Linked DNA regions of Homo sapiens: region 1 is linked to region 2. The links come from fine-mapping of genetic effects on gene expression. A gene starts in region 2. The other region holds a variant in brackets. All regions are shown on one strand. Distances are from middle to middle. Region 1 overlaps TMEM170A (transmembrane protein 170A). Region 2 holds the start of TMEM170A (transmembrane protein 170A).

Evidence for each region. PIP is the estimated chance that this variant, and not a neighbour inherited with it, causes the effect.
Region 1: its variant is the best candidate, but not a certain one, in a credible set for the expression of TMEM170A in sun-exposed skin (GTEx, PIP 0.60).

Annotation. Positions count from the first base shown.
Region 1 is chr16:75,441,776-75,446,164 of GRCh38, reverse strand. It overlaps TMEM170A (transmembrane protein 170A), which reads left to right. Exons shown (of 3, transcript NM_145254.3): 3 at 1-3,111. Among named protein-coding and RNA genes, the nearest start is that of CFDP1, 10 kb to the right of the region's middle. The variant G/A (reference allele first, on the strand shown) is at 2,012.
Region 2 is chr16:75,462,851-75,467,239 of GRCh38, reverse strand. TMEM170A (transmembrane protein 170A) reads left to right here and starts at 2,551. Exons shown (of 3, transcript NM_145254.3): 1 at 2,551-2,772. The coding sequence starts at 2,640. RefSeq lists enhancers at 2,381-2,881, 4,071-4,120 and a silencer at 2,575-3,204.

The DNA.
Region 1 (4,389 bases), 21 kb after region 2:
CTCACTGTGTTGCCCAGGCTGGAGTGCAGTGGTGCAATCTCAGCTCACTCCAACCTCTGCCACCCGGGTTCAAGCGATTCTCCTGCCTCAGTTTCCTGAGTAGCTGGGATTACAGGCACCTGCCACCGTGCCCGGCTAATTTTTGTATTTTTAGTAGAGATAGGTTTCACCATCTTGCCCAGGCTGGTCTTGAACTCCTGACCTTGTGATCCACCCGCCTCGGCCTCCCAAAGTGCTGGGATTACAGGCGTGAGCCACCGCGCCTGGCCATAAATCTGACATCTTTAAAGGAAAGTTTTCATTGTGAGATTAAGGCTTAACAGCCCATGAGGTCATATACACATGAACGTATCTATTCCATTTAAAGCAATACACACTCTGGCTTCTGATTAAAAATAGCCAGGAGGAGAGTCTCTGAATCTACTGTGATTCTGGAGTCTGCCCAATTTGGAAAAAAAAAAAAAAGAAAAAAGTCAGGAGGACCAATTTGCCAGGGAAACTCATAGAAAAGAATTACAAAGAGATCACAAAAACTGGACATATTCTTTTGACTAATTAGACCACTTATGGCTGGGCGCAGTGGCTCACACCTATAATCCCAGCACTTTGGGAGGTCGATGTGGGAGGATTGCTTGAGCCCAAGAGTTCAAGACTGGCCTGGGCAACATAGTGAGACCTTGTCTCTACTACAAAATAAAAAAAAATTAGCTGGGCGTGGCCTCAGCTACCCAAGAGGCTAAAGTGGGAGGATCACTTGTGCCTGGGAGGTTCAGGCTGCTGTGAGCCGAGACCACGCCACTGAACTCCAGCTTAGGCCACAGGGCAAGACCCTGTCTTAAAATAATATTACTAATTTTGGTAATTAACTTATCAAAACTATAGTGACATATACACGGGCAGAAACTTATAAGTAGAGTTGTAATGCAGCCAAATATTCTTACAAATTCCCTAACAAGAAGCTCAAATCTTTCTCACAGGCAAATTGTAAAAATTCTAGTTTTTTGTTTAAAGAGCTGTGATTTTCAAAAGTATCCCTTCAGTTTAAGAAATCTGGGGAATTGGTAACTTTTCTTATGGGAAATGATTGCCATCATCTCTACTGAAGGATGCCTCTTACTGAAAAATGTCTTTTGAAGGAGTTCTTGCCTAAAGCATTCTTTGGATGTAATTTCATACACTAAACATATAGACCAGTAGTTAGTGGGCCCCTCCTCTTAAACAGTAACTTTTGAAGTACTGATACATGATTAAAATGTTAGATATTTTTCACTGGAGCTAAGACTTAAAATTAGGGCATTTTGAAAGGTGTATTTGTTTCTGTTTCTTGTTTGATATATTTTGGTTATCTACTCTTTTAAAAAACTAAACGTATAAAAGGTATCTTCAAATTACTGAGTGTTTCATCCATCCCAGTAGGTGAAGTATTCTCCAGTGAATAAATCTATATATATATATAGATTTTAAATAGCTTGAGCGGTGTAGCTTGAAATGTTTTCAGGGAAAGACTATTTGAATCATAAGGAATAGCTTTGATTTTCTTTTTTATGTCTCAAATATAGAATTATTTGGGGGTGGTCACTCAGATGGAAGAATATTGGCAATTGTGTTGAACATTTTACCTTATATAGTTTTGAGAATTTTTGCCAAAAACTGATTTCTTAGAAATATCCTCCCCCAGCTGTGCTTTGGTTTTTTGGTTTTTTTGTTTTGAGACGGAGTCTTGCTCTGTCGCCCAGGCTGGAGTGCAGTGGCATGATCTCGGCTCACTGCAAGCTCTGCCTCCCGGGTTCACGCCATTCTCCTGCCTCAGCCTCCCGAGTAGCTGGGACTACGGACGTCCACCACCATGCCCAGCTAATTTTTTGTATTTTTAGTAGAGACGGGGTTTCACCGTGTTAGCCAGGATGGTCTCAATCTCCTGACCCGCCTCCACCTCCCAAAGTGCTGGGATTACAGGCATGAGCCACCACACCCGGCCTCTGCTTTGTTTTTTAAAAAAAAAGAAATGCAA[G/A]AGAGGGAGGGAGGCAGCCTCCTGACCATAAAAGCTGATTTCTTGATTTTTTTTTCTTTTTTTTTTGAAATGGAGTCTTGCTCTGTCTCCAAGGCTGGAGTGCAGTGGCATGGTCTCAGCTCACTGCAGCCTCCGTTTCCTGGGTTCAAGTGATTGTCCTGCCTTGGCCGCTGAGTAGCTAGGATTACTGGCACCCGCCACAAGGCCCAGCTAATTTTTGTATTTTTAGTAGAGACAGGGTTTGATTATGTTGGACAGGCTGGTCTCAAACTCCTGACTTCAAGTGATCCACCCGCCTCGGCCTCCCAACGTGATGGGACTATAGACATGAGCCATCATGCTTGGCCTTCTTGATTCTTGAATACGGGGTTTTGAGGTGAAAGCATTTCATGAAAACTTAAGTTCATACACAAGAGCATCATGAATATTCTAAAAGAGGTATCTGTGCTTTTTTTGTGACCACAAAATATTACTTCTTATGAAATGTTTACACTAGGTGAGGAAAAGTTCATTAATTACCTTTAAACCGTTCCTTATTTTTTTTAAGATTTTAAATTGTATTTTGGCTTTTGCCTCCAGTATCCTTTCTGGTTGCTCTGGTTTGAATTAAGTTCCTATTATGCTGCAGCACATATCAACCTTCCCTAAGTAACCATTTCCTGGAATGTGAAGCATCGGTGCCATTAGCAGACCATATGCAGAAATGTCGTGTACTTGCATTTCTTTTTTGTGCACTCTATAAGGCTGGTTGTGACTCAGATCAGCTTAACTTTTTATATTATGTTATTTCACTAACTGCTACAGTCAAAATGATCAAATCTTTGTACAATAGAAAATTATTTAAATTTTATTTTTCTACTGACATTTCTAATTCTAGTGTAAATGTTTATCAATAAAAAATTACTTTCAATTCTGAGTTGGAATTATATTTCTTTTTGGTGGCTAATGAGTTTAATCTTTTGTAATAAAATTGACTTCAGTTTTCATTTTTTAAATAACTTAATATCTAGCATGTGTAACTTTTTTTATGTTCTACTTCTTACTAATTTATGATAAAATTCTTGTTCAAAGTTGTGATTAAACCGTACTTAACATGTGAACTTGAAATTCTTATTAACTCTACTTGCTGGGCCATATATTCCCATCAAGAAACTTTTGTTTGATTCTGTGCAGGAATAGGTGAGTATTGATACAGTGTGTGAAAATGTATTATTTTAATAGTAAGTCCACATGAAGAGAAGCTTCGTCGTGTTTGGTTAATTTAATACCCTTGGTGACATCATAAATCTCACTGTTCTGCCATTTTTAACAAATGGGACTAAGTTGGGTAGTTTACCTCATGGTCACAAGATTGCTGCAGTTCCAGCCATTGCAGACACATACAGAGAATGTCTGGCAGGAGATTGCCCATTCATTCCTTCTAATTTTCTAAAGTTGAGGTTTAACATGCAGTAAAGTGTACAAATCTTAAAATGTATAGCTTAATGAATTTTACATATATATATATATATATATATATATACTTAATGTGACTAATAGATCAAGAGACAGAATGTTTCTAGCACCCCGGAAAGATACGTACACAGTTCAGACAGAAGACCCCAAGACTGTATATGTATCTGGGAGTAAAGGTGCTGAGATCGGCAGGGAGGACACCCTAAATTATTACCGAGAAAACAGAACAGTGAACCAGGAATCTTTAGGGAGTTGGAGGGATTTGTGCTGTGGCCAAGTGGAGAGCCCTGTCCGAAGGAGTCAGCTATTGCTTGGCTCCAGCCTGTTTCTGCTTTATTCGATGATTAACCCAATCTTGCCAGATACTTATTTTCAAGAGAAGCTGGAAATCTAGGTTACTGTTTGAAATCTCTCCATTTTTAAGTGTTAGCAACTAATTTAAACTTGCGTAAAACACTTTTATTATTTATTTATTTATTTAGAGACACAGTCTCGCTCTGTTGCTCAGGCTGGAGTATAGTGGCGCGATCTTGGCTCACTGCAATCTTCACCTCCCAAGTTCAAGTGATTCTCCTGCCTCAGCCTCCCAAGTAGCTGGGATTACAGATGTGCGCCCCCAAACCTGGCTAATTTTTGTATTTTTAGTAGAGACGAGGTTTCACGGTGTTGGCCAGGATGGTCTCGAACTCCTGACCTCAAATGGTCCGCCCACCTTGGCTTCCCAAAGTGCTGGAATTACAGCCGCGAGCCACCTGTAATTGTGCGCCTTGCCGTAAAACACTTTTAAGTCATTACAATACATGATTTTAAGCTGGATTTGGCCTGCTCACCACCAATTTTTTTTCCATCTCAACTATTAGAAAGTAATTCCCACTCTGATTACCCTTAAAGCGGTCAGGAACTCTAGTTGTAAATCTGAACAA
Region 2 (4,389 bases):
CACAATTATGGAAAAAGGCTGTCAGCCACTGTCACAAAAAAATCCTACAGAATCTGAAATGCCAACAAGAAGTCTAGCTGCGCCAGAAAATACCTGTGAATCACAGGTTTTTCCATTTCAACTTATATGACAAAAAGTTTCAGCTTTAATTATTTACTAAATTCCTGAGCCATCTTTAAATTCTTGTGGGGTTTTTTGTTTGTTTATTTGTGTGTTTGTTTTTTGAGACAGGGCCTTCTTCTGTTGCCCAGGCTGGAGTACAATGGAGCAATGATAGCTCACTGCAGCCTTGACCTCTGGGGCTCAAGGGATCCTCCCACCTCAGCCTCTGGAGTTAGCTGGGACTATAGGTGTGTGCCACTACACCCGACTAATTTTTGAATTTTTAGTAGAGACAAGGTTTACCTATGTTGCCCAGGCTGGTCTCAAACTCCTGGGCTCAAGCAATCCTGCAGCCTTGGCCTCCCAAAAGTGTTGGGTTTACAGGCATGAGCCACCTTGCTTGGCAGATCGGTGAATTGGTCACTTTTTAAAAAGATTTTAAAAGGTATGATTTATGTAGCATAAAATTCATTTATTTTAACTGTACAATTCAATGATTTTTAAAGAAGTTTTCAGGCTGGGCACGGTGGCTCACGCCTGTAATCCCAGCACTTTGGGAGGCCAAGGTAGATGGATCACCTGACGTCAGGAGTTTGAGACAAACCTGACCAATATGGTGAAATTCCATCTCTGCTAAAAATACAAAAATTACCTGGGCATGGTGGCACGGAGCTATAATCCCAGCTACTTGGGAGGCTGAGGCAGGAGAATTGCTTGAACCCGGGAGGCGAAGGTTGCAGTGAGCCGAGATTGCGCCACTACACTCCACTCCACTCCAGCCTGGACGACAGAAAAAGACTGCGTCTCAAAAAAAAAAAAAAAAAAAAAAAAAAAAAAAAAAAATTTACCAGTCAGGTGCAGTGGCTCACGCCTGTAATCCCAGCACTTTGGGAGGCCAAGGCAGGTGGATCGCTTGAGGTCAGGAACGAGACCAACATGGATAACATGGCAAAACCCTATCTCTACTCAAAATACAAAAATTAGCTGGGCCTGGTGGCACGCGCCTGGAATCCCAGCTACTGGGGAGGCTGAGGCAGGAGAATCGCTTGAACCAGGGAGGCGGAGGTTGCGGTGAGCTGAGATTTCGCCACTGCACTCCAGCCTGGGCAACAAAGTGAGACTCTGTCTCAAAACAAACCAACCAACCAAACAAAAACATTATTATTCGTCACAAGCCTCTTCATCACCTGGAACCTTGTGGACATTACTTATCCTTGGTAACTTCCCTTCCAGAACACTATTGTTAATGGCTGCTATGGTCTGAACGTGTTCCCCCAAATTCATGTCCTGAAACTTCGTGGGAATGCGATAGTACTGAGAGGAGGGGCCTTTAGGAGACGATTAAGTCAGAAGAGTGGAGCCCCCGTTATGGGATTAGGACCCTTATAAAAGGGATTTGGAGAGTGGGCTCCCTTTGTTACCGTGTGAGGACGCCCGGGCGGTGCTATCAGTGAGGAACGGGCCGTCCTTAGACATGGAACCTGCTGCGACCTTGATCTTGGACCTCCCAGCTTCCAGAACTGTGAGAAAATAAATTTCTGTTCTTAATAAATTGCCCACTCTCAGGTACTTTGTTACAGCAGTGCAAACAAACTGAACATTAGCTTATTCCTTTTTACGATTTCTCTGCCTTCATTTTAACAGGCTTTCTGAAGGGAGGTGAGACAAAAATGTGTGATCCACGAGGACAGGAAATCGAGACCATCCTGGCTAACACGATGAAATCCCGCCTCTACTAAAAATACAAAAAATTAGCCGGGCGTGGTGGCGGGCGCCTGTAGTCCCAGCTACTCGGGAGGCTGAGGCAGGAGAATGGTGTGAACCCGGGAGGCAGAGCTTGCAGTGAGCAGAGATCGCGCGGCCGCACTCCAGCCTGGGTCACAGAGGGAGACTCCGTCTCAAAAAAAAGAAAAAAGTGTGATCTAATTTTATTGCTCTGAACCGAATCTCTGTACATTTTATTTTATTTAAAACTAAGTCGAGCTCTATAGAGGCTACATAGCCTCCCTCCCATTCTGGTCCCACACCAGACTTTGCATGGGCTCTTTCTACTATCAGCTTTAAATAGAGAACGTTCTTGTTCTGTTCATGAAGGTTTCATAAATGCTGGAGTCCAGTCATAACTAGAACTTTACATATCCGTTCCATCACTGTATTTTTCCAGATCCCTGGTAACTCCATAGCGCGGCTCTGTTGGGGCGCATGCAATTCCCTACTTTCTCACAGGGGGCGCTGCAGAGAAGGGCAGAGCAGAGCGCGCGGTCCCAGAGCGCGCCGTCCAGGAGGGGGCGCGTCCGTGGGGCTGTGTCTCTGCGAGCCCTGCGCAACGTTGGGGGCGGGAACAACCCTGGCCCTGCGCCCGAGCGCTGCGGCGCCTTGTGATTGGAGGAGGCAACGGTCACTTGGCAGCGCCGTTGGGATTGGGGGAAGAGGACCCCGGCTGGAGGTGACGCTGAGGCGGCGAGGGTGAGTCGGCGCCGGCCGCTACCGCACTTCGGGCGCTCGTCCCTCATTTCTCTGTGGTGAATGGCGACGGGATGGAGCGCGAGGGGAGCGGCGGCAGCGGCGGGTCGGCCGGGCTCCTGCAGCAGATCCTGAGCCTGAAGGTTGTGCCGCGGGTGGGCAACGGGACCCTGTGCCCCAACTCTACTTCCCTCTGCTCCTTCCCAGGTACGGCCCGCCCCGCGCCTGCGCACTGCGCGCCCCGCCGTCGCCGCTGCCGTGCTGTGGGCGCCCCGAGTCTGGGCGGGGTCCCGGGTGCGCAGCCTGCTGGCGGCGTGGGCGCTGTCCTCCGGGAGGGGGGCCGTGCTGCTCGCCCGGAGCCCCTTTCCCCATCACTTCTTCGGCGGTCCCTGAGGCGGAGCCCCGGAGTCCCGCTGGGCGTGAGATGCAGAGAGCGGCCGCAGGTGGGCCCGGGGCTGGAGGGCGCTCGGCCGCCACCCGAGCGGGTCTTGGCCTTGAGCTTCCGAGCGCCTCAGGTTCAGAGCTGCACCCCACGAGCCCGGGAGGCTGTGGTCCCCGCCCTGCCTGGGTTGCCCCACGGCGCCCGGCCTCCTTCGAGGGGTCTCGGAGCGGCCCGGCCGCGCTGAGGAGTCAGAGCTCGCGCTCCCCTTGCCCCGGGGCTGCAGCCCGGCCCCTCCGCGCAGGCGCTCGTTCGCTGATCGCGGGCGCCTGGGGCTAAATCCTCCCCCTCCGAGACCCGCTCCGCTTTCTAGGAATCTTTCCCAGACCTGGTGCCACCTGTTGCTGGGTCTCCCACTAAGCCTTCGAGATCTTTGGCACAGCTTCCTTTGAACTCTTCCTCCCCGCTGCGGCTTGAGCTGGGCCTGCTAGGAGGGTTGCTCAGAATTCTAATGCCAGGAAGAGCGCTCCGTGCCCTGAAAGCTGGAGGGAGGAGAGAGGACTTCACTTGGGAAGGAGGAGAAAAGCTTTGAGGGGAGGCACAGTTATTTGTGTGGTCCTTGAAAGGCAAGAAGACTAGAGCCCGTGGCCCTGGAAGGGGAGGTGGGGCTCCCAGCAGAGGGGACTGAGGTCTTCATAAACAATGAGGGACCAGAGCAGAGGGAAGGAGGACGAGATTCCAGACTCTAGTTCCAAACAAGGCACCTGTGATTTCTCATCCCCTGGGCAGCGACTGCCAGGCGCCGTTCAGCGGACACCTGGGACTTGCAGTGTTATGTGCCCAGGGATTTTCCCGGACGGGATTGTGAAGTAGCGGGTAAGGTCATCAGGCAGGTTGGGGTCAGATGCAGATGTTCGCTTGTGGTCATTCCTGAAATGAGAATCTGGCAGCTCACGTTATTTCAGAAGGTGCTAGGATCACTTTTGACAGTGATATCAAAAAATTGATGGTATTCTGGTGACCCTGTGTGATACATGAAATGTTCGTGCAATCTGGAGGCACTACTGGGACCAGATTAATCTTTGTTTCCTTAATTTTCCCCTTTCCTGAAAAATGTCAAGCCTGCCAAACAGTTGAGAGAACAGTATAACAAATACCCATGTACCCTTTACTTAGACTCAGTAATATTTTGATTCTTTGGCTTTCTGTTTCTCTTTCTCTCTCTCTGCTCTCTTTCTCTCTCTCTATATATATAACCACATGTATTACATACGTATCACACTTAGATGTAGGTCACATGTCCCATTTCAACTCGAGTCATTCAATAGGAAGTTGCAGAAGTCATAACACTTGCTTGATGCCTGATAATCTTAACATGTATCTTCTAAAAACCATTTTCTATCCATGAAACCATATCACATCCAAGAAACTGAACATCATAGAAT